7 linked regions of the Homo sapiens genome follow. The protein of the gene in region 4 purifies or fractionates together with the protein of the main gene of each other region. This does not show direct contact. Each region holds a gene or a part of one and is shown on either strand. Other genes may lie near its edges. The genes, in order: PJA2, IFT172, CTR9, MINDY4, PPP6C, IFT57 and ANAPC1.

Region 1 (3,500 bases), on a different chromosome or scaffold from region 4:
TGGCAAACATGGAGAAGATAATGACCATCTTCAACTTTCTGCAGAAGTCGTGGAAGGTAGTAGATACCAGGAATCATTAGGCAATACAGTATTTGAGTTGGAAAACAGAGAGGCAGAGGCATACACTGGTCTTTCACCACCAGTTCCCTCATTTAACTGTGAAGTAAGAGATGAGTTTGAAGAGTTAGATTCTGTACCATTAGTGAAAAGTTCTGCTGGTGATACTGAGTTTGTCCATCAGAATAGCCAGGAAATTCAGAGGTCTTCTCAAGATGAAATGGTTAGTACGAAACAACAAAATAATACTAGCCAGGAAAGACAGACAGAACATTCACCTGAAGATGCAGCCTGTGGTCCAGGGCATATTTGTAGTGAACAAAATACCAATGATAGGGAAAAGAACCATGGAAGTTCTCCTGAACAGGTAGTGAGGCCAAAAGTTAGAAAACTGATAAGTTCAAGCCAGGTGGACCAAGAAACAGGTTTTAATAGGCATGAGGCGAAACAAAGAAGTGTTCAAAGATGGAGAGAGGCTTTGGAAGTTGAGGAAAGTGGCTCAGATGACCTCTTAATAAAATGTGAAGAATATGATGGAGAGCATGACTGTATGTTCTTGGATCCACCATACTCAAGAGTTATTACACAAAGGGAAACAGAAAATAACCAAATGACATCAGAAAGTGGAGCCACAGCAGGAAGGCAAGAGGTGGATAACACCTTTTGGAATGGCTGTGGAGATTATTACCAACTCTATGACAAAGATGAAGATAGGTAAGGTCACATCCAGTACTTTTTCCGATTGTGTAGTAAATGAAGTGGTTTCTTTCTAGAACCATGTTTGATGGCTGGGCTATTTGATATGATCAGGGAATTAGACATTTTGACTTACCAAATATTTTTATTTACTGAATGCTAACCATACATGCAAACTACTCATTAGAATTTTTCACAAAAAAATGTTTTTGAGGTTTTTAGTAGTTTACAGAAGTAAGTTCAGATAATGATTATTATTATAAAGGGATAGAGATGCTAGTTCATGGTATTTCAATTAATAAAATGTAAAATAAACATTTGTTGTATTTTTTAAAAACCTACATTAAGCCAGTCTGGGTTTAAAAAGTGATTAATATCACAAATTATTGATTGGTAATACTTCATTAACATTGCCAGTAGTGACTAATATCACTTGTTTCCCTCTTTATCTGTTCTTCCTGTGGCTCTTCCTATCACTAAGTTTATTTTTTACTTATTTTTTCTTAGCATTCAATTCTCATTAACAACTCTGTGTGGTAGATTCCATTATTTCCCTCATTTGTAAATAAGGAAACTGAGGCACAGAGCATTATATAACTTCCTAAGGTCACAGAGCAACTTAATGGTAGAGCTGGACTTTGAGTACCTAACTGGGTATTCCAGAGACTGTTCACCACTATTCTTTGCTATTTTCAACAGAACATAAAACTTATAATAAGCATTCTGATTGCTCTTACAAACCCGTATCTTTTTTTTCCAAACCATAAGACAACAGAAAAAGAAAAAAATGGAGAATTTCTTTGTTCAGTTGCTGAATTTCCATTACCCCAGTGTCCAGATTTTCATGAGTCCTTGTAAGCTAGTTGCATCCCTGACAGTGCTCAATTACAGTGCAATTGCAAGATTTTATTAGCTAGTGGAAATAATTGTGTGGTTTTTTTTTAGTTAGAAAGTACTATAAAGGAAGAAATTTACCATTTTGAATATGAATGCATTTTAATTCATGTCATAAAACAATTCATTTGATTTTCTTTGGACATATGAATTAAGCTACTATAATACAGATTGTGTAATTTATTATAGAAAATATTTAAAATATAATTTCTGCTGCTCTGTCAAAGTCTGTAAACTTTAAGGGTTAGTAAGTAATTTTTGTATGATATACTGTTTTTAAGCTAAAGGTAAAGTTTTTTTCAGTTCAAGCCCACAGTGTTTTATTCAGTATCCACACTTCTAAAAACAGAAATTGGCCACAAAGCCTGACCTGATGTTAACTTCCTGGATAAGCAGATCTGGATCTGAATTGAAATGAGGGTATTTTTTCAAATATTTGTATATTTTACTGCAGAAATATAGTTATGTTTGATTACTGTGTGTGGCCTGGACCATGTTGGGGTTTGTTAAGTAGTAGTTCTAAATCTGGGAAATATATATCAAAATTCCAAAACACATTTAGCCCTAAGATTTTGAAATAGATTGCAAGTCTCTAATATTATACCTCTAGGTTACTATTTTTAAAAAAAGACAAAACTTACAGTCTTTGATAATTTATTTTTTTGAAAGTGTAAGGTGCTTGTATTTTTTTTCCCCCAGTTACACTTTTTCTTCTTTAAGGAGAATCATTTAATTTGGCTATACCTTTGTCATTTTGGGCAAAATAAATACTTCTCTTCTGCTTGCTTTTTATAGTCAGTTATAATGTCTTATGATGAAGTTGATGAAATTGTTACATTGTTTGCCAACCCCTAGAGAAAGGTAGTCTTCCTGGCTCCTTGATTTTAAATTGATTTTCTTTGTTTTGGGGGTGGTCAGTGGTGGAAGTGTATTCTTTGCCTTGAAGGACCCTGGACTTTTCATAGTTATAAGGTATTTTCTTAGTTATTTGTAATTCTTATTCTTATTTTTAATTTTTTTCTTAAGTGATGTCAATATTCTGAACAATGATAGTTTTTTTTTTTTTTTTTTACAAACAATATATAGATGGGAAAAAACATTTACAGTTAATAGAAACTGTCCTTTTAAATTGCTAGTAATGTATTGACTACAGAGCCTGTGGTTAGGGTATGCCAAAATGATGGAACTACTTTAGGATCATTGTTTAAGACACATTGAAATGCTTAAAAGTTTCTTGTTTCGTTTTGTTTTAAAGAATCATAGAATAAATTCTAAAGGATAATGGTTCTGCCTAGGACTGTACTTATATTTTTATCCATAGCCTTAAGATATGTTTTACGATCTCAAAGTGTCTGTACAGTTTTCTGTACAGATTATTCTATTTCTGAACAGAAACTCTGTTTCTATGCTGCTGTGTCCTGTTCCTCTACCCTAATTCCCTGCAAAGGATTATAGTTGCCAGGGTGCCTTTTTAATATGGTGCCAGCTAAAGGTTGGAATTTAATAGCTGTACACTCCTATTTAGTTTCATTTTGCCCTTGTTCATCTCCCTGATGTTTCATTGTCATCCTCCCTAGTTCTTGTATTTGTAGATTGGAGAGATGGTGATGCTAGTCTTCTCAGGTTTTGGATGGAAAGTATAAGAGCTGCTGCTTAATTTGGGCCTGTGAACTTTGAGTTTTTTTGTAAAGCTTAAAAAGTTGATATACTTGAAAAGTTTTTTTTTGTCATGCTTATAATAGCCAAAGTAGAACTCATCAAGAATATAACTAAAGTTCATTGTGGCATTTTTATTTTTTTATTTTTTATTTATTTATTTCGAGACAGAGTTTCTCTCTGTTGCCCAGGCTGGA
Region 2 (3,500 bases), on a different chromosome or scaffold from region 4:
CGACAGAGCAAGACTCCGTCTCAAAAAACAAACAAACAAAATAAACAAACAAACAAAAAAACCTCAAAACCTAAGGGAAATTTTGCAGGGGCATCACCATACGAATATGTCATTTAGAGGGCCAATCTCACCCCCCTCATGACCCCCACTCACATTTCACTGTATCTAAGGTGCGTCATTTAAACTATACCTGCATCCCAATTTTAAATATATTAAAATATAATTATATATATGTATGTGTGTGTGTATATATATATATATATATGTTATTGTTAACTTTATGTATCAATTTGGGCTACAGGGTATCCGGGTATTTGGTCAAACATTATTCTGGGTGTTTCTATAAGTGTTTTTGGATGAGGTTAACATTTAAATTGGTAGACTGAGTAAAGCAAATTGCCCTCTCTACTGTGGATAGACCTCATCCAATCATTTCAAGGCATGAACAGAACATAAAGGCTGGCTCCTTCCCAAGTTAGAGAGAATTCTTCCTGTTTGACTGCCTTTAAACTGGGACACTGGCTTTTTCCTGCCTTCAGATTTGAACTGAAACATCAGCTCTTCTTGGGTCTCAAGCTTGCTGGCCTTCAAACAAGAACTACACCATCAGTTCTCCTGGGTTTTCAGTTTGCCAGCTCACCTGCAGATCTTGGGCCTTGTCTATCTCCATAACTGCATGAGCCAATTCCTTTTAATAAATCTCTTTATATACATGTACACACATATACCTACAGTCATGCATTGTCTAATGATCAGTATGTTCTGAGAAATGTGTCCTTAGGGGATTTCATCATTATGTAAGCATCATAGCACAAACCTAGATGGTATAGTCTACTATACACCTAGGTAGAGGTTGCGTAGAGCTTATTGCTCCTAGGCCACAAACCTGTACAGCACATTTCTGTACTGACTACCTATAGGCAACCATAACACAATGGTAAGCATTTGTGTATTGAAACCTATTTAAGGCCAGGCGTGGGATCACCTCAAGGGATCCACCCACCTCAGCTTCCCAAAGTGCTAGAATTATAGGCGTGAGCCACCATGCCCACCCATGTGGTCTACTGTTGACCAAAACGTTGTTATATGGCATATGACTGTATATATCCTGTTGGTTTCTCCAATACAGTATGTCTTATTATTTGTGACACATACTGGCCTGGCTTAATTTGCTGGAAGCTTCTTTTCAGGAAATGTTGGGTGGGGGAGGTGGAGCCCATGCTTTTTTCATGTTCCCTGTCTGGCCAGTTCCTGTGCCTGGAGTTGCCCTTCCAGCTCCTGTCCAAGTCTTCCCTCCTTCTTCACAGAGCCTTCCTGACCCCTCTAGCCCACAGAGATCTCACTGTTCTCTGAACTCTACTTTAAATCATGCACTTTAGTCTTTACTCAGATATGATAGTAATTGAGCCATTTATTGGTCTAATTCCCCTAACTTTTGGCTGTCAGGGCTCTGTCTTATATCCACTTTTATAGCCTTCAGAGGTTCTGGCTCTATCATCCAGCAGGCACTCCATAGATTCCTGCTACCTGATTGAAAAGAAAAAGACACAAGAGGAAAGAGCTGAAGATGTGAGAAGCAGAGCCAAGTGTGAATAGAGGCCTAGGGAGAAGGAGGGCCAGAAAGGGCCTGCTGTCCTCACCTTCATCCAGCACTTCTCCGCCAGGCCGCTGTTTCCAGAGTCTCGCACTTTGAGGTAGCAGTCCACGGCACGGCTGTACTCTCCAGCCTGCTCCCAGTGTCGAGCTTGTTCCACAAATCCCTCCACACCCCTGTGGAGATGAGAGCGCTGGGACTTGGCATGGTAGGGGGGCAGCATGCTCTATCCTGTGTATGCCTCATGACCCTCCCAGCCCTGCCAATGCTGCCTGGACCTCTGGCCTCATACCTGGCCCCCTTCTTAGTAGCTTCCCGCTCATATTCTTCCTGCAGAGCCTCCAGCTGGCTGGGCACATAGTCCTTGCAGATGCGCAGAGCGTCACTCCATAATCCAGCCTCCTGCTCAGATTTCCAGGTATCAAGAGGGCAGAGGCAGGCCTGACAGCTTCCCACTGCCACACAGGTACTCTGGCCCACAGACTCCTGGGTCCTTGGACCTCTCTTCTCCTCCTCTTTCCTGTCTTCCCCACTCCCCAATACTAACCTCCCTGATCTTTCTTCATACCAGGGGTCAGTGTGGCTCTCTGTGGGCTCTTACAAACTCTCCCCCTCCCCTCATGGCCCTGCATCCAGTGCCCCACCTTATAATAATTGAGGGCCAGGCCTGGTCTCTGGGCCCGGAGCAGCAGCCCTTCTGCTTTCTGAAAGTCCTTCTCCTCCAAGGCCCCCCGGGCCTGTCCCACAAGCACCTCGGCGACACTGTCAGGGTCGTGAGCCTCAGCCACACGCTGAGCTGCCTCCCAATCCTGGTTATGGACAAACCTGCCTCCAGGTGGGGACAGAGGAGAGACTGAGTATAGGACTGAGGCCCCAATAGTGGGAGACAAACAGCCATGTCACTGAGGGGTGTAACACTGATTTGTTCTAGGTTTGAATGAAGGTCAAGATAATCATGAAAGATCCTGGGACGGTGACTGGGGAAACAGTATTAAGGAATGTATGGGGTAACTCACATGAGGACTGCCTCCTTGGGTTTACCAGCTCTGATGAATTCAGCTTCAGCCTCTTCGAATTTACCCTACAGGGAGAGAAAGGCAGCCGTGCATGATGAGAAGGAGACTGGCATCACAGGCAGGCATGAGACTGGGGGTCTGCACACCCAGCAGCAGTGCACTAGGGGATGGAATAAGAGGGCTCTGCGGTCGGGGTCCAAATCACACCCATACCTCATCCTCCAGGAACATAGCATATTTGAGATGAACCTCGGGGGTTTTGTGCTTGAGGGCCAGCCGAGAGAGTTCAAACGCAAATTCAAAGGAGCTGAAACAGAAAGTGCAGATAAAGTTTTCTTGCTTCATGCTTCCCTTCATAAAAGGAACAAGACAAAACAGAGAAAGGACAGAGTTGAGGGGAGAAAAAGTGACAGATTTAAGGATAACAAATATGAAGTGACAGAAAAGCGTGGAGAGATAAAAAGGAAGACGGGCAGGCAGCCCTGTGAAGACCATGTCACTGTCAGCGTGGATCAAGAGACGTCTGGAAAAGCCTATGCCTTCCCTGAGGCCAGCTGCTCCTGAGGAATTAGTTTGGGCCTGCGAAGGGGAAGGGAGGAGTGAGCCTCGCAGCCCTACACTGACAGGGCTAGGAGGGCTCCTGGTGCTCTCCATCTCTTCCTGAGCCCCAGCTACATTAGCAGAAACAGAGTCTCTCCAAAAAATGAGCAAGACCACCCTCAGCATCGGACTCCATGATTGGCACTGATAACAGTAGCTTGAGAACACTTTGCTCTTTTGGCTATCTTTCTGCACCGCCGCAATAGTGCGCATGAATGTCCTGGCTGATGTGCTCAAGAGCATCAACAATGCCAGAAAGAGAGGCAAACGGCAGGTCCTTATTAGGCTGT
Region 3 (3,500 bases), on a different chromosome or scaffold from region 4:
CCCCAAGAGAAGTGTGAAAGACTGACCTGTGGAAGGTCAGGAACCTCTGTTCCCTACTGTGGCACTTTCCCAGCCCATGTAAATATCACTGCCTCACCCAAAGTCACCTTCCATAAATAGTAACATTACCTGGCTTCTGTAGCAGCAAGGGCCAAATCAAATCTCATTTTATCTCCCACTTTACTCAAATAACTGAAGTATCTAAATGAAACGAGAAAATACTTCACTTTTAAAAAAAGAGATTCTAATGAAATAAAGCTCTTAAAAAATTTAATCTGTGCTACAAAGTCTGAGAAAAGGTTTGCATATTGACTGATTTACACAAATTTATGCCACTCATTACATTTAATAGACACGTTCATCAAGATGGTCTAAGTTATATTTAATATTATCAGTAAATTCACAAATAACCACAAAGCAATTCAAGCAACAAGTATTTACTAAACATGAAATTTACTAAATATGTCAGGATGGAGGTTACGGGGCTCAGGCCATGAAAGCACTTATAATTTACCAGGCAAGGCAAGAATTGTTAAACAAGAATAAAAATATTAAGTTGGACAAAACCTGAAGAGATGACAGGTTTTAATTTCACCACACACTGACTCACCATATAAATACTATATGGCTAAATAAATTTTGAGCTGAACTGAATAAAACTATTAAGCATTATTTAAGAAGTAAAACCTTAATCCTAGTTCAATGAAAATCAACATCCCATTAAAAGACACATTGGTGTAAAATGGAAGACCAACGTAAGTGTCCAAAAAATTTCACATGTGTAAAATGCTGGGTCACATTACTGTCAGATTAATAAAAAATCTATGGCAAGTTTGCAAAGCTAGCCAGCCAGTTCTAGAGGTCAAGCTACAAGATCCAAATCTGGCAGGATCCTGACTATAGTTTGGCACCACCTGGTGGCAGCTGCTATCTGCTTTGGCTTAACTATTGCTGGAATGATTCTAATAGACCACCTTTAGAAGGAAGTGATTTTCAGCAGCTTGAGACAAATAGCTTTAAACAAAGCATTTCAGACAAAATCGGGAGAGTTCAAGATGGTATGGTCATAGACCAAATAAAGCATTTCATAGGTTGTTTCTACAAAATCTTTACCTATGTGCAAGCTCCAGTTCTTTCACAGCATTAAGTACTTCCTTCAGATTACTTTTTTCATCTTTCAGGACAGAGGTAGCTAATCTTTGCAGGACCAAGGCCACATTAAACATAAGAACTGTATCACTGGGTGCCACATGTCTAGCCTGTGAATAAAAAATAAATATTTCATATGTTCAAATGACATGAAAAGGATCTTAGACAGCAGAGTATTATTAAGTAGTAGGTATGTGAACACGCATCACGAAGAATTAAAAAATACAATGTAGCACAGAAATGGATGGGAATAACATCTCTCCTTTTTACCTTCAGCAAAGTCTGTTTGCATTCCTGTAACTTGCCACACTTGAAGAGGGCCCGGGCCAAATAGAGTACAACTTCAGTGTTTTGGTGCTTATAGAACTTTCGGAGGCAGTTTTCATACTACAGTAAAAGAAAAAAGTTAATTAAAACACAACAAAGAATAAATGACATTTTCATTTTGTAGCAAAATGGCATTGCAATTTTAAAGCTCTGTAAAAAGGTGTTTTACCCTTTGAATGGTTAATTTCAGAGAATAATTTGGGGAATGATTTTTGACATTCATCAGGATACATTTTCACAACATAAAAAATCTGACCATTAGAAAAACTAGATGCTTGAAATGGTTTCTTTCCATTTGAAATTTGGACCAACATTGAAAGAAAGGGTAAACAGACTGGAAAGCCTTTTTCATACTTTTAGCAATACTATCTAGAATCAGCTTATTGACCACTGATGAGAAGTCATACACCGTTGTCCTTTGCGTTTTACCATCTACACCTTTCTTAACAATGGGCAGAACCTACTGGCAATGAGCATGAGGAGTCTTACAGTTCTGGTTGTTAACTTCTTGGTAAAACCAATACAATACTAGTGTTAATTGTGACATGAACATAGCACTTTTTGACCATGGAATACCTCTTGTCATAGGTAAGACCTTTTTCATGAAAAATGGTTAAGACCATTTTTTCCTGAATATCCCTAGTAGTTAATTTGCATTTATAAAAGACAACATTATCATTCAGCAGATCAGGAAGGCCAGCCTCACAAAACACAACCTCTGAAGCTCCATATGCAATCTAGGTTCTGTGAGTTTCTGTGATTATTGACTTTCCAGTACTCTGAATATTGGTAATAACCCACCCATTTTAGAAAAAGGTAAACCACTTCTCAGGAGCCTGGACTGCTCTTTTTGTCTACTTTTTGTAAGCTTTTCCTTTCTGACCATAATATATCCCACAGAGCCGAAGATCCTTTTTACTTTTTAATTTTATGGATGCTGAGTATGACTTTTATTTCGAGCTCAAGCACTCAACAAATGTAAGCATAAAAAAATTCTACAGTCATTAAATCTTATCGCTGTTTTGTTTTCTTTTTTCTTTTTTTTCCCGAGACAGAGTCTGGCTTTGTCGCCCAGGCTAGAGTGCAGTGGCAGGATCTTGGCTTACTGCAACCTCTGCCTCCCAGGTTCAAGCAATTCTCCTGTTTCAGCTTCCTGAGTAAGCTGGGATTACAGGCACGTGCTACCATGCCCAGCTAATTTTTGTATTTTTAGTAGAGACAGGGTTTCACCATGTTGGCCAGGCTGGTCTCGAACTCCTGACCTCGTGATCCATCCGCCTCAGCCGCCTCAGCCTCCCAAAGTGCTGGGATTACAGGAGTAAGCCACCATGCCTGGCCTGTTTTCTTTTAAATAAGTCATTTAACCTTTCTAAAACTCACAGTTCAGTTTCAGAAACTGAATACACAAATAAATATTCAATCCTACTACTTACTGGGTATTACTAATATGCTAGGCATGCTAGTGCCAAGTAGTTTTCATACGGGATCCTCACAAAATTCTATGAAGTTAAGGTACAATTATCTCCATTTTATAGATAGGAAAACTGGCTCAGAAAGGATGTCCTTTGCCTGAGGCATGTAATTAGTGGTGGAACCAGGACTCACATCTCTGTCTGGATACCAAAGCCTGGCCTTAGCATTATATAATTATAAATCTCTAAATAGACACAGTATCACAAGAGATAGCATGCAGCTCCATGACAGGGCCAGAATGGCTAAGAAAACATCTGCTTAACAATGAACAAGATATAAAAATATCTTGAAAGAGAAGCTATTACCATCTGAACGGCGCTGATGTACTGCTTTTGCTCCACATAGATGTGTGCTAAGTTCAGCCACACATCACTAATATCTGCTGTTGCTTCTCTTACTTGGGCAAATACATCACGAGCTTCACGAAAATATCCTTTGTGGGCCAAAACAGCTCCTAAAGATATAAAAAGGTTCACACTTAACAATTTTCTAATTGGAGTCAGAAAAACAACTAAAAATTCTATTTTAAAACAACTACATTGATCACATTT
Region 4 (3,235 bases):
CCAGAGGAGTCTATTGGGTTTTGGGGTTGAGCCACTTTGATGGAATTTATCCATATCAGAGCGTTCATCTTCACTGCTCAAATAAGAGACACTGGTGCCGTATTTGGAGACAAACTGGCTTGGCTTGGTGAAGTCAGACTTCTCCTCGGCAGTGAGTGCCCATTGCTGATACTATTTGGGGGTGGAGTCTGATGATGTCCTATACTGGCTAATATAGGTCCAACCAGCAGGAAAATGGCCACTGCTCTGGCTTATACAACTGAGCAGGTTCTGGAGGTAAGCAGGCTGGGAAGGCATTGTGCTGACCCCAGCTCCTGGGTACTGAGTTCATCTATTACATCTGCTGGGTTAAAAGCACCTTAGCAATCTGCAGCAACACGATGAGCATTTGAGATTTTCAATTTTCTTGTTCTGTTCATCATCTTTGCAGTTTGGAGTGTGTCATTAAAAAGCTTTTATTGTTCTATTAAGATTTGTGGGCAAGCATTGAAATCTTGGACACTAAGGAACACATCCTGAATCCAGACTCCCAGAGGGTGGCAGAAGGGAGGCAGGAAGGAGAGCAACATGCCTGCTCTCAGCCTGGTCCCCAGGCCCCTTCACCCCGCCCCTCTCTATCTTTTCAAGCCTTTACCCTCCCCACTCAGAAAGACTGAAGTACCTCGTATGAGCTCCCAAGTTACAAATTCCTTGAATCCTGGCAAGCTGCTTCAGTGCAGGGGTGAGTCACACTCATCTACCACTAGACAACATCTGTGTCACCACAGTGGCTGAGTCTTACTATCAGGCTGTTGAGTTTGAGCTTGGTTTTGAGGCTTTCTACAGACATAACCAACCCGCTCCATCCAGCCAACAGGGGCAAATGCAGGGAGAGTACTGGAAACACCAGAGGGAAGCAGTTTGCAATTACAATAGAAAATCAAAGCAGAGACATTTTAAAAATTGAAAGGGCTGAGCCATGACGCATGTTGTGCTAGTGTAGGGGACGAATCGAATCGTTCCCCGATTGGAATGGTTCTGAAAGCTTGTGAGTCGATTACAAGGACAAGTAAGAAGGGCTCTGCATATGCAACCAACAACTGCGGACAGGCACAGAAAGGGGAGGGATGAAATGGAAACACCTCTGAGGAGCAGAAGAGACACAATCAAAGTTCCAGACTCATTCATCAGTGCTAATGCAGGAGGCGGCTGACAGCCAGCCAGTTTATAGCCGGGTCTCTCATCCTCGGTACCTAAGGCATTTTGGCTGGGTAATTCTTTGTTGTGGAGACCGTGGTGTGCATTATGAAATGTTTAGCATCCTCTCCCAGGGCTGTGACAACTAAAAATGTCCTCAGACATTGGCAAATAACCCCAGGGGCACACAATTGTCCCGTTGAGACCACTCGCTCCGTAAAAACACCATGGTCCCTGGTGCTCAAGTCAACTTAAAATCACAGAGAAAGGCACTTCATGGTGGAAAATAAGGCCCTGTCCCCCCAGAGGCATCACTGCAACAGAGGGGTGGTTACCTGCCTTAACTGCTTTTCAACGTTGATGGACCCAGTGTTTTTCATGGGGAAAAAGGTGCCTGATAGAGCCTGTGTCAGCCAGGACAAGACAGCAGGCCTGAGTTCAAAGCTCCTGACTGGTAGAAAAGCATCCAGGGACGCCTCTTGTATGCTTTAAATCTCCAGACAAATAGGCCTGTGTGAAAGTTTCCGTTCCCGTGCTCCAGCCATTCGGAATGAGGAGCAGCTCTAGGATGAGCCACGTGGGTATCCCTCACCCCTGGGCCTTAACCCCTGCTGGGCCCTGCCCAGTCCGCCATCCTGCAGGATCAGATCCAGATTCCTCTTTGCAGAAGTGTTCTCTGACTGCCACCCGCGGGTCCCCGTCAGCACCCAGGCCAGGCTCCAAGGCAAAGCTGGTTTAACCAGTGCCTGCAGCCTGGGCTCCAGGTGGAGGTGGCAGGTGGGGGTGCTGCTGCATGAACACGACCCCCACCAGGCCAGCTGTTCCTCCTGGACGCCTGCTTAGGGAGTGGCCCCGCCCTCCCAGGCACTCAGCAGGGAAACCATGGTCCTCGCTGGCTCACGCTTCAAAGCCCTGCCTTGCACTCTCCTCTCTGCCTGCTCCTGAGCCCTGGCCCAACTTGCCACCACCTGATTCCTCCTCCTCCCCAACGCATGCCCAGAGGCCATTGTGGCTCACAGGAAAGGCAGTGCTTCCACAGCTCTTCTCTCAACCTCACAGCAGCTCAGGAGAGGGATCCTTAGACCCCAGGGACAGATGGGGAAACTAAGGCTGGGAGCAGAACCAGACCTTCTGGAGCTCACACAGCTTGATGACTGCAGAGCCAGCACAGGGCAGGTGTGTGTGGGGGGCAGGGCATCAGAAGAGGGCTGGCATGGACAGTGGGGAGTGACAGCGCCCAGAGAATGCTCCTCCGATGGGTGGGAGGCACTGTGGACAGGGAGCCTGGGCAAAATGGTCAGCATGGAAGCTGAACGGGAGGTTCCGCAGGGAGTGGGGGTAGCTGAGGGAGGCGGGGGCTCTGCCTCTGCCCCTCGAAGGCATCATACCCAGCTGGAATTACATTTTCAATTTCTTGTCTGCACCTCCGAACAGAAACATCTGTGCCCCAGCCCCAGGCTCCGGTTATGAGTTCTTTCCTCTTTTCTCTGGACTGTTGACAACCGTTTCATTTTTCTCACTCTAGCCAGGCTGGAAGCATGAGAGAGGTCACTGTGTGTGTCTCGTTTGGAAATGACCATAATAAATTAGCCTGTTTTTTTGCTGAGATGGTTACAGTATAACAGTGGGAGGGGGCAGGGGACAGATCCCACATTCCTGACACAAGCAAAGGTAACAGGAGACTCTCTCAGGCCGAGGTTTGCGTCACAGCAAAGCGCAGAGACACATGGGGTCTGGGATGGTTTGAATTAGGATGCTCTTCTCTGAAGGCGAAACCAGCAGTCTGGGCTTGTGCAATGTCACCGAGGCAACAAAGCCAGGTGGTGGGAAGTCACTGCCCACTAAGTGACCTTCCAATGGGCTGGGACAGCAAAAGCGTAAGCCACAGTCCTTGGAGCTTGTGACTCAAAGTGTGGCTGGGACACGGACCTCCATTCTGGAGGCCCCCATCTCCCTGTCTGTAAAAGAAGAGGTGATAACAGGGGGTGCCCAAAGGCCTTTCTGTAGAGCCAAGCAAGCTGCCAGACAGCCAGCTGTGTGGCTTGGGGGTTCTTGCAGG
Region 5 (3,500 bases), on a different chromosome or scaffold from region 4:
GATGTTCAGATTTCTTCAGTTTTACTTGTGTTTGTGTGTGTGTGTGTGTGTTTGTGTGTGTGTGTGTGTGTGTGTGTGTGTGTTTGTGTGTATTCAGTTCTTTGCAGTTTTATTGGGTAAGGGCTCATGTATCCAACTCTATAGTCAAAATACAGAACAGGTCCATCATCACAAGAATTCCTCATGTTGCCCTTTTATAGCCACACCCACTTCCTTCCTGCAACTGCTGGACCCCTGACAACAACTAATCCGTTCTCCATTTCTTTAATTTTGTCATTTCAAGAATGTGTAAACACGGCCGAGTGCAGTGGCTCAATGCCTGTAATCCCACCACTTTGGGAGGCCGAAGCGGGCAGATCACCTGAGGTTGGGAGTTTGAGACCAGCCTGACCAACATGGTGAAACTACTAAGAATACAAAAATTAGCTGGGCATGATGGTGTGTGCCTGTAATCCCAGGTACTTGTGAGACTGAGGCAAGGGAATCACTTGAACTGGGAGGCAGTTTGCAGTGAACTGAAATTGTGCTACTGGACTCCAGCCTGGGCAACAGACCAAGACTCTGTCTCAAAAAAAAAGGGAAAAAAAGAAGGTTATATAAATGGAATTATACAGTATATAACCTTTTGGGACAGTTTTCTGTTGTTTCATTTTTTTCACTCAACATAAATGCCTTGAGATGAATCCAGGTTGTTGTGTGGCAGTATTCGTTTCTTTTTATTGCTGAGTAGTATTACATGGTGTGGATGTACCAAAATGTGTTTAACCATTCACTCATTGAAGGATATCTGATTTGTTTTTAGTTTTGGGCTATGATGCATTAGGCTTCTGCGAGTATTTATATACAGATTTTGAACATGTTTTTATTGCCAAGACTACAGTTGCTGGGTCAAATGGTAAGTGTGTGGTTTGCAATTTATTTTTTAAATTACCAGATAAAAATCTTTTACTGGCTGGGCACGGTGGCTGACGCCTGTAATCCCAGCACTTTGGGAGGCTGAGGTGGGTGGATCACCTGAGGTCAGGAGTTCAAGACCAGCCTGGCCAACATGGTAAAACCCTGTGTCTACTAAAAATACAAAAATTAGCCGGGTGTGGTGGCACATGCCTGTAACCCCAGCTACTTGGGAGGCTGAGGCAGGAAAATTGCTTGAATCTGGGAGATGGAGGTAGAAGTGAGCCGAGATCGTGTCACTGCATTTCAGCCTGGGAGACAGAGTGAGACTCCGTTTAAAAAAAAAAAAAACAAAAAAACCCAAAAACCTTTTACTGTTAAAATTATTTCTTCATATATATATATATATATATATATATATATATATATATGTGTGTGTGTGTGTGTGTATATGTGTGTGTGTGTTTGGTGAAAAACATCATTTTACAGTTCTTGTAAAGCTGTCTGTCTCCTAGAACCTTAGTGTCTCTGTAGGTAGTTTGCATTGCATTAAGAATTCTGTGTGACAGCTGACAGAAATCCAACCCCCGAATTATCACAGGGTACTTTCCTATCAAAAAGTATACTTGGGTTTTGTAAGTATTAGACCTGGTATTTTTCTTTTTTGGTATTTTATCTTTAGTTTTAATGTTGTAGTAAATGTTTACCTTTTATTTTCTCTTTTTATAGCGGCTATGTGACTACGTTTGTGACCTCCTCTTAGAAGAGTCAAATGTTCAGCCAGTATCAACACCAGTAACAGTGTGTGGAGATATCCATGGACAGGTAAAATTTCATGAGCAGATTTTTAAGTTTTGTACTGTCCATGATCCATGTGTGTTTTCACATGTGCTGCAAAATTAAAACAACAACAACATCAACAAACACAACTGGTGGTAAGCTAGGTTGCCTCAGTCTCTGTGACACAAATGATTCCTGGTTTACATTTTTGGTGAATAAAAGCAGTGGTCAAATTAGTGATGGAATTTGTTGATAATTACATTTGTGAAGTGAATAATGCAGCATTAGTTTTCTGTGGAATGGTGGGGTTGGGGGTAGGTAGAAGATATAAAGTACAAACACATACTGCTCATAATAACTATGATTAACAGGAGATGTTTTGGTGTTAGGCACTTTTTTCATTCAGTTCATTTCTGTTCTCCTGTCATATATTGTTGAAAATTTATCATTTCTTTAGTGGGAATGAGAATAGCAAAGGTACAGAAAAATAAAATTGTTGGTCCATGATGTCACAGCAAATCACTGATGAATGAGCTAGAAAATATTTAGCTCAATTTTTCATCTGCTGGGTGTTTGTAAGAATTTCAAAGCAGTGCCGGGCGTGGTGGCTCACACCTGTAGTCCCAGCACTTTGGGTGGCTGAGGCGGGTGGATCGTGAGGTCAGGAGTTTGAGACCAGCCTGACCAACATGGTGAAACCCCGTCTCTACTGAAAATACAAAAAAATTAGCTGGGCATGGTGGTGCGTGCCTGTAATCCCAGCTACTCAGGAGGCTGAGGCAGGAGAATCTCTTGAACCCGGGAGGTGAAGGTTGCAGTGAGCCGAGACCGCACCACTGCACTCCAGCCTGGGCAACAGAGCAAGACTCTGTCTAAAAAAAAAAAAAAGAATTTCAAAGCAGTAACAGGAGGGGCATACCTCATATTTAGATTCTGTTGTCAGTGTTTAGTCTCATGTATATTTGTAGAATTTTTTCACTGGGAAATGAAAGCTGAACAGATTACTCATAGAGTGCTATATGCATACAGTGTAGTTGGGGCCATAAGACTTAATAATACATTGCAAACAATGTAGTCTTTAAAGGATGCCAACAGGACTTACTGTCACCTGTGCAATTTCCCTGCTTTAAATATGACTGTGTAAATGAGCAGAAATGTGTGTAAATTGACTCTGATTAGGGGCTGCTCCATGAGTAAAGTCTTGTTTTGGCTACTTACTTACAGGCTGATTTTCTTTTGGTTTTTCAAGGTGTTTTCTGGATTTTTTAGATTATAAAAAAATCTGACACTTGCATGTCATCACCTCCTAGATGGAGGTCCCATTATGTCATCTTTGATTGTTAAAATTACAGTTCTTTAGAGTAGACTTTAGGAATTGATTTCCTAAAATTTCCATGTAACTTCTCTCTCAAACATTTGTATTTTGCTAACATAAAGGATATTAATATAAGCAGTGTCTTAAGACATTCCTGAAAACTGGAATAAACCAAGTCATGTTTTCCCCCAGTGTAGTGTAGAAGTTTCTATGTAACTTCTCTCTCAAAGTAAACATTTGTATTTTGCTAACATAAAGGATATTAATATAAGCAGTGTCTTAACACATTCCTGAAAACTGGAATAAACCAAGTCATGTTTTCCCCCAGTGTAGTGTTTCCCCCAGTTGTAGACTTTTTAAGATGTGAAGTACAGCCATGATCAAAGGTCAGAAAGTTAGAGACCAACCTCGAACTACTAAAATTGGAAGCATAAAATTGAACTTTTGTATTATATATACCTTCAGTCAAATGTGCAGTTCTTGCTAACATATATCTTGTGTTTTGAGGTTA
Region 6 (3,500 bases), on a different chromosome or scaffold from region 4:
TAAGACCTCAAAAGCACAGATAGACAAAGCAAAAATGGACAAATGGGATCATGTCAAGCTAAAAAGCTTCTGCACAGAAAAGGAAGCAATCAACAAAATGAAGAGACAACCCACAGAATGGGAGAAAATATTTGCAAACTACCCATCTGAAAGGGGATTAACAATCAGAATATATAAGAAGTTCAAACAACTCAGTAGGAAAAAAACCCAAATGATCTAATTAAAAAATAGGCAAAAGATCAAAAAGAGACATTTCTCAAAACAAGTCATACAAATGGCCAGCAATTATACGAAAAAATGATCACTAATCATTACTAATCACCAGAGAAATGCGAACCAAAACCACAAGATACCATTTTACCTCAGTTAAAATGGTTTTATCAAAAAGACAGGCAATAACAAATGCTGGCAAGGATATGGAGAAAGGGGAACACTTGTATAGTGTTGGTGGGAAAGTAAATTAATACAGTCACTATGGAGAACACTTTGGAGGTTCCTCAAAAAACTAAAAATCTATCATATAATCTAGCAATGCTGCTGCGGAGCATATACCCAAAAGGAAGGAAATCAGTATGTTAAAGAGAAATCTGCATTCGCATGTTTACTGCAGCACTATCCACAATAGCCGAGATAGGGAATCAACCTAAGTGTTGATCAAGGGATGAATGGATAAAGAAAACAAGGTATATATACACAATGGGATATTATTTAGCCATAAAAAGAATGAAATTTTGTCATTTGTAGCAACATGGATGGAATTGGAGGTCATTATGTTAAATGAAATATGCCAGGAACAGTAAGACAAATATCACATGTTCTCACTCATATGTGGGAGGTAAAAATAAGTAGATTTCATGGAGGTAGAGAGTAGAATGATGGTTACCAGAGATTGAGAATGGTAGCGGGGAGGAGGGATAAAAAGTGAATGGTTATTGGGTATGAAAATATAGTTATTTAAAACTGCATTAGTTATATAGAAAAAATAAGACCTAGTGTTCGGTAGCACAATAGGGCAACTATAATTAACGGTAATGTATTATATATTTCAAAATACCTAAAAATGTGGAACGGGAATGTTCTTAACACAAAGAAATGATAAATGCTTGAGGTGATTGATAGCCCAATTACCCTGATCTGATCATTACGCATTGTATGCCTTGTATCAAAATATCACATACACCCCATAAATATGCACTATGTGTTCATAATAACTAAAGATAAAAAAATAAAAAATATATAAAAATAAGTTTGATTTATGGAGTACCATTTGGGTGAACTGAAGCTAGATGCTGTTGATTAAATCCCAAAGCCAGTGCTCTCCAACCCTCATTTCCACCCTCATTTCCAACCCCTCTTTCTTTCCCTCCTTACAAGATTGAAGTTCAGAATCACCAAACAAGACAAGGGCGCACACCCGTCCATACTACCACTTTCTTCAGGCCTGGATGTAGGATTGTTCAAGTTGTGAATAACATACTCAAAATGTTTTACTGAAGGAAGGGCATTTTTCATAAAGGCAGATGGGTTTGCAGTGGCCATTTGAACTAGACCTAGAATCTGAGGCAGCAGGGTACATAAAGATCAAACACTGCATTAAGATATGCCACTGCATAAGCTATTTGTTTTTATGTTGGGCCCTTTAGTAAGTTGCATTTACCTTTACTAGCTTATTATTTGGTTCCCTTAAGCAACGATTTGCTAACTCCCACTCCCAATGTTCTAAAATGATTTAACATAGGAGCTCAAAAATTTTCACTCACTCGTAGGCCATAATTAATATACTAGGGGAAATGGCCCAGTTGCTAAGTGAATAAAGGGCAAAAAGAGAACATTAGGTTTGGCAGAGCAGCATTAACTTATTCAAACTATACAGTTTCTTTCTACATCCATGTTTGCATATCTATTTCATAACCTCATTCCTCACTCAACATTTCTTAATGCCTAATAACTTGATACATTAACTGAGCAAGCCCTATATATAAAGTATAAATCATTTTAAAACTATACTGTGCCTTGGTTATAATACTTTGAGAAAATTTTTCTTCCCAATTGTTTTTCCATTTCATAAATGGTACTTTATGTGGGTCACTTGTACAAGAGAAATAAACTGCTTTTCATTTAATCAAAATTTTATATCATCATGACAAAGTCCCTCTCTAACACATTAACTAATATAAAGCATTGCTTTTGGGAAATTCCATTTTCCAGTTACTGCTGCAGAAGAAACAATTAGAAGCTCATAAGACACAAGTTATCTAGAAGTCTCATTTATAATTAATTAAATTAATAAGCCATTTGTTAAACTCCTACAACATTCAAGGTAAGAATTCAGGCACTGTGCTTGGTGTGGAAAGCTAAAAGGATTTAAATGCTGCCTGCAGAGTTTGCAGACTACTAGGAAAAGTCTGAGGCCAGTTAATGGGAGTAATAATTGGTCCTAGGTAAAAGGAGAAACTGATGAGATGGGAACTGATCCTAACTGCCAAAGGAAGAACTGAAAATAACAGTCTACACTATCCCATAAAGTAACCTTGGGCTCAAACAGTGGGGCACACCATCGAAGTCAGTTCAAGAATCAAACATACAGTGTTAAAAGCCTACTTAGAATCCTGTTCCAGTAATCTTTGGTCAAGCATCAAAGAAAGGCTATGTTCTGTAAAAATATACATGAGATGGCAACTTCATGGATATACTAGTGTCCAGATTCATTTGAAGAGCTTATATCATATACCTACTGAGAGGGTGTTAAAAGTCCAATTAACTCTCAAGATTAAATACTCCCAAGACTCAAGGAAAAGGGAACTAAGTTGTCTTAAGAGTCACAACAGCATGGTGTAAATGTTAAGAGGATGGGTCTGGAATCACATCTTTGCTCAAATCCCACCTCCATGACTTACTAGCTGTTGGTCAAGTTACATAACCTCTCTAAATCTCGGAGTACCCATCTGTAAAATGAGAATAACAGCACCTTCCTCATTGGAAGGGTTGCTGTGAGCATTAAATGAGACAATGTATTTAAAAGGCTTGCACAGTGTATAATACATATTAACCCCTGGTATATTTTAGCAGTTATTATCATTACTATTACATGCCAAACACGGTACTAGATGCTTTTACATATGGGTTAAATGCCCAATAATAACACCATGAAACAGGGAGTCTTATTACCATCTTTTAAAGTGAGGAAACTGAGGCACAGAATAGTTACATGACTTTTTCAATGTCACATCTTGTGATTGGTAGGTCAGGCAGTGTTACTCTAGAGCACAAGCTCTAAAACACCTTAGCACATGTCTATCAACCCTTTGCACATAGGCTATAATTATTTTTCTCCAGTTCATCACTTGTATTTTAACTTAACGGTGTTCCCCACTCTGCTTTCTTGTAATATAAAGTTTTAATTTTTATGCATTCAGATTTGTATTTTATGTTTTTGATTTTCTTGTCATGCTTAATTATGCCTACTTCAAACTATAACACTTGTCACTCCTCATGTTTGG
Region 7 (3,500 bases), on a different chromosome or scaffold from region 4:
TACCATAAAACTTTATAAACATTGCTTTAGCTTTGATGTTTGGTCACGTTTGTTGTGCAGAAGTCACGTTTCAGGGTAGGTTCACCGCCAGACACGGTCACATCACCATTGGCTGTGGATTTCCAAGAAGCAAAGGAGCCAATCTCAGCAAAGCTCGCACTGGCATTTTTAGCTGCTTAAATTTGAAGAGCAGTTCAGCAAAGCTTGTGCTCCCTAAAATGGAAATGGGGTGGGAAGGTCACATCTCTAAATAAATTCAGCCATACCTCTCCTTTCAAGGAAGCTTCAGAAACACAATCATGTTTAAAACAGGCATTTTTCCCTTTGAAAATGACTATGCAAAGACAATATTTAAAATTATGAAATTCCTTAATACACTGTAATGTAAATTGAGTATCCCTTTTCCAAAATGCTTCTGAAGAGAGGTGTTTTGGATTCTGGATTTTTTTAGATTTTGGAATATCTGCATTACACCTACTGGCTTTCTTTTTTTTTTTTTTTTTTTGGAGACGAAGTCTCACTTTGCCACCGGGGCTGGAGTGCAGTGGCGCTCTCTCGGCTCACTGCAAACTCCACCTCCTGGGTTCACCCATTCTCCTGCCTCAGCCCCCCGAGTAGCTGGGACTACAGGTGCCCACCACCACGCCCAGCTAATTTTTTTTGTATTTTTAGTAGAGATGGGGTTTCAACGTGTTAGCCAGGATGGTCTCGATCTCCTGACCTCGTGATCCGCCCGCCTCGGCCTCCCAAAGTGCTGGGATTACAGGCGTGAGCCACTGCGCCCAGCCTCGGCTGAGCATTCTTAATCCAAAAATCCCAAATCCAAAATGCTGTAATGAACATTTCCTCTGAGCATCATGTTGGTGCTCAAAACGTTTTCGATTTCAAACACTTCAGATTTCAGATTAAGGATACTCAAACCTGTATATGATTTGATAGAATTTACCCATTCTAGACTTCAGAAAGTGACCTATAACTACATGTGAAACTACTAATATTGTTTAATTTTATATATATATATATATATATATATATAAATTCTTTAAATATAATGTGCAAAAGTGCCTGTCTACCTTCAAATACTATCTAAGTGGTATTTTACTGGTTCTAATACAGTTGACCATTGAACAACCCTGTTTGTCCAGCCTGGCCTGAAAAGAAGTCTATACTTTTAAAATGTCTTCCTTTTCCTTTTAGTAGTTTGACTATTAATGTGACTAGGTATGGTTTTCTTTGTATTTATCCTGCTTAGGGTTCACTGTGGGTTAATATTTAACACAATTTTTCAAAATTCTTAGCTTCTGTCTCTTCAAATATTGCTTCTAACTCATTTTTTCTCTCCTCTTATTCTCTTATTCCAACCCCATGCATGTTTATTTTTTTTTCACGGTTTCCACATGTCTCTTGTACTCTTCTCTGTATTTCCTAACCATTCTTCCCTCTGTGCTTCAGTTTGTTTACTTTCTACTTGTCTTCCAGCAGATAAGTGTCTTCCAGTTCACTTCAAATAATCCAGTACTGAGATCTTCATTTCAGTTACTATATTTTTCAGTTCTAGAATTTCCATTTAACTCTTTTTTATTGACCCCAGGTTTCTGGTGAAATTCCCTATCATTCCTTCTATTTTCCTGGAAACATTAGACATAGTTATTTTAAGTTCCAGTATGATAACTCCAATATCTGAATCACACATAAGTCTGTTTCTATTATCTGTTTTTTTATTATTATTATGTTTCGTAATTTTTGATTCAACACTGAATCCTGTAGACTAAAAATTGCGGGGGCTCTGGGTATGTTTTCTTTCTCCTATGAAGGTTACATTTTCTTCTGTCAGGTGGGGAGAAAGCACACAGATCACCTTAGTTCTGCTCTAGGCTAATTGTAGGTCAAGTCTGCTTGGAGTGAAACTGAAGCAGACCAGATCTAAAATTAGGCTAGAGCAGGCTTAGGGCTTGGCCATGTATTAATTCACCTGAGGAGCTGGGATGCTGATCAGAGCCACTTCACTTTAACAAGCGTTGAATTCCACCCTTTGTCTCCTCAGTCCTATGCTGCTGCTGACATTTTTGCTTACATTTTTGGCCTTGTGGCTTCTGCTAGATCTCTTGAAGTCTTATCCCATGTATATGAAGGCTAAAATATCATTAAGTAACTCAAGGGAAAGGTATATCCAGAGTCTGAGTTATGATTTCTATTGTTCTCTCCTGCCTGAGACTGTGTTCCTCAAGTTCTAGGCTCTTGGGCAATCACAAACCCAACCTCTGGCTCCTCAGCCCTGCAGCATTGCTGCTTTTTGCTGGCACTCTACTTCTTGTACTATGAACTGGCAAATGCCTTTGGGGGAGAAGCTAGGGTGAATATAAAGCTCTCCCTGTTGTACTTCCCTTTTCTTATTTTTTTTTTTTAGCTTTTATATTTGTTTTTGAGGGCAAGTGAGTCCAATACAAGCAATTCCATCATGGCCATAACCAGAAGTCTCTAGATAGTAAACTTTTATCAGAGGCTTGCAAAACAGCAAAAAACTAGTAATGTAATTAAACTTCAAGTTTAAATGATTAAATGGAACAATCTTTGCCCTTATCAAAAAATATTTTTTTTGAGAATCTCAAAAAAATTGGGTGCTTAGAATTCATCATATCTTAGTATTCAGCTTAATGGATAAATTTTTTTTATCTGTTTCTATATTCTGAAAAATACAATCAGGTGATAATACTATTAATTTTTAAAACTATTATAAAAAAATTCAAACACAAAATTAGGTATTTATTAGTTGTAAAGCTTTGTAATATTAGAAATTAAGATTATATGTGATTCTAAAAAACCCAACTGAAAACCTAGAAAATAAAGAAAAATAGCTTTAATAAAAAAATCAATTAGTAAAGAATAATATGGAATATTTAGTTTATTAGTATAGATCAGTGTTTGGGGCTCTGTGAAGAAGAATCCATCCTTTTCTGAATAAAAATGAAAGTTATTCATATATAAAGTTGATAATTTTTTCTTTTTTGCTCCAAAACAGTCCCTAACAATGACACTGCAACATTAATGAAGAGGAAAGTCAAACTAGGGGCAGTAACTACTGAGAAACTAGAACATAAAGGGGTAGGTAACAGAGTTACTGAAGATAAGACTTAGATATGCAATTACCTTCTAGTCCTATAGGTGGCAGGTGCTGTGGAGCTGGCACAGAGTGGTAGACGAGGAAGCAGGCCAGCATGCTCAGCTGTGATTCCTCCAAGGGCTGCCCGCTGAGGTAGGCGTGCACACACATATCACCCCCGACTGTGAGAGAAACAAATGGAACGGAACCAACTGATGACAGAACTGAGAGGCACAAGAAATATCTTCTATTACTTTTTCATCAAGAACTTATTGAACGCTCAGCATATATAAAGCAGGTTCTATAGCCGGTATTGAGGCTACTCTGACAAGCTAGACTGAGTCCCTGTCATTGTAGAGTTTAGAGTGTTGTTGGGGGAGACAGATATTACACAAATAAT

Evidence for each region.
Region 1: the proteins of MINDY4 (region 4) and PJA2 purify together in Homo sapiens (affinity purification with mass spectrometry, with the first as the bait; one large-scale study listed by BioGRID). This does not show direct contact.
Region 2: the proteins of MINDY4 (region 4) and IFT172 purify together in Homo sapiens (affinity purification with mass spectrometry, with the first as the bait; one large-scale study listed by BioGRID). This does not show direct contact.
Region 3: the proteins of MINDY4 (region 4) and CTR9 purify together in Homo sapiens (affinity purification with mass spectrometry, with the first as the bait; one large-scale study listed by BioGRID). This does not show direct contact.
Region 5: the proteins of MINDY4 (region 4) and PPP6C purify together in Homo sapiens (affinity purification with mass spectrometry, with the first as the bait; one large-scale study listed by BioGRID). This does not show direct contact.
Region 6: the proteins of MINDY4 (region 4) and IFT57 purify together in Homo sapiens (affinity purification with mass spectrometry, with the first as the bait; one large-scale study listed by BioGRID). This does not show direct contact.
Region 7: the proteins of MINDY4 (region 4) and ANAPC1 purify together in Homo sapiens (affinity purification with mass spectrometry, with the first as the bait; one large-scale study listed by BioGRID). This does not show direct contact.

What each region holds. Positions count from the first base shown.
Region 1 is NC_000005.10:109,375,475-109,378,974, reverse strand, and holds part of PJA2 (E3 ubiquitin-protein ligase Praja-2), read left to right. Parts: coding exon 1-771; intron 772-3,500.
Region 2 is NC_000002.12:27,451,744-27,455,243, forward strand, and holds part of IFT172 (intraflagellar transport protein 172 homolog), read right to left. Parts: intron 2,918-3,500; coding exon 2,824-2,917; intron 2,676-2,823; coding exon 2,611-2,675; intron 2,420-2,610; coding exon 2,239-2,419; intron 1,997-2,238; coding exon 1,887-1,996; intron 1,771-1,886; coding exon 1,641-1,770; intron 1,528-1,640; coding exon of another isoform or gene 1,495-1,527; exon of another isoform or gene 1,394-1,494; intron 1-1,393. UniProt on the Homo sapiens protein: Required for the maintenance and formation of cilia. Plays an indirect role in hedgehog (Hh) signaling, cilia being required for all activity of the hedgehog pathway.
Region 3 is NC_000011.10:10,768,246-10,771,745, reverse strand, and holds part of CTR9 (RNA polymerase-associated protein CTR9 homolog), read right to left. Parts: intron 3,404-3,500; coding exon 3,255-3,403; intron 1,537-3,254; coding exon 1,420-1,536; intron 1,260-1,419; coding exon 1,114-1,259; intron 202-1,113; coding exon 130-201; intron 1-129. UniProt on the Homo sapiens protein: Component of the PAF1 complex (PAF1C) which has multiple functions during transcription by RNA polymerase II and is implicated in regulation of development and maintenance of embryonic stem cell pluripotency.
Region 4 is NC_000007.14:30,886,417-30,889,651, reverse strand, and holds part of MINDY4 (probable ubiquitin carboxyl-terminal hydrolase MINDY-4), read right to left. Parts: intron 553-3,235; exon of another isoform or gene 1-552. UniProt on the Homo sapiens protein: Probable hydrolase that can remove 'Lys-48'-linked conjugated ubiquitin from proteins.
Region 5 is NC_000009.12:125,169,304-125,172,803, reverse strand, and holds part of PPP6C (serine/threonine-protein phosphatase 6 catalytic subunit), read left to right. Parts: intron 1-787; exon of another isoform or gene 788-856; coding exon of another isoform or gene 857-895; intron 896-1,623; coding exon 1,624-1,719; intron 1,720-3,500.
Region 6 is NC_000003.12:108,194,925-108,198,424, forward strand, and holds part of IFT57 (intraflagellar transport protein 57 homolog), read right to left. Parts: intron 1-3,500. UniProt on the Homo sapiens protein: Required for the formation of cilia. Plays an indirect role in sonic hedgehog signaling, cilia being required for all activity of the hedgehog pathway.
Region 7 is NC_000002.12:111,769,194-111,772,693, forward strand, and holds part of ANAPC1 (anaphase-promoting complex subunit 1), read right to left. Parts: intron 3,283-3,500; coding exon 3,148-3,282; intron 1,942-3,147; exon of another isoform or gene 1,868-1,941; intron 214-1,867; coding exon 98-213; 3' UTR 1-97. UniProt on the Homo sapiens protein: Component of the anaphase promoting complex/cyclosome (APC/C), a cell cycle-regulated E3 ubiquitin ligase that controls progression through mitosis and the G1 phase of the cell cycle.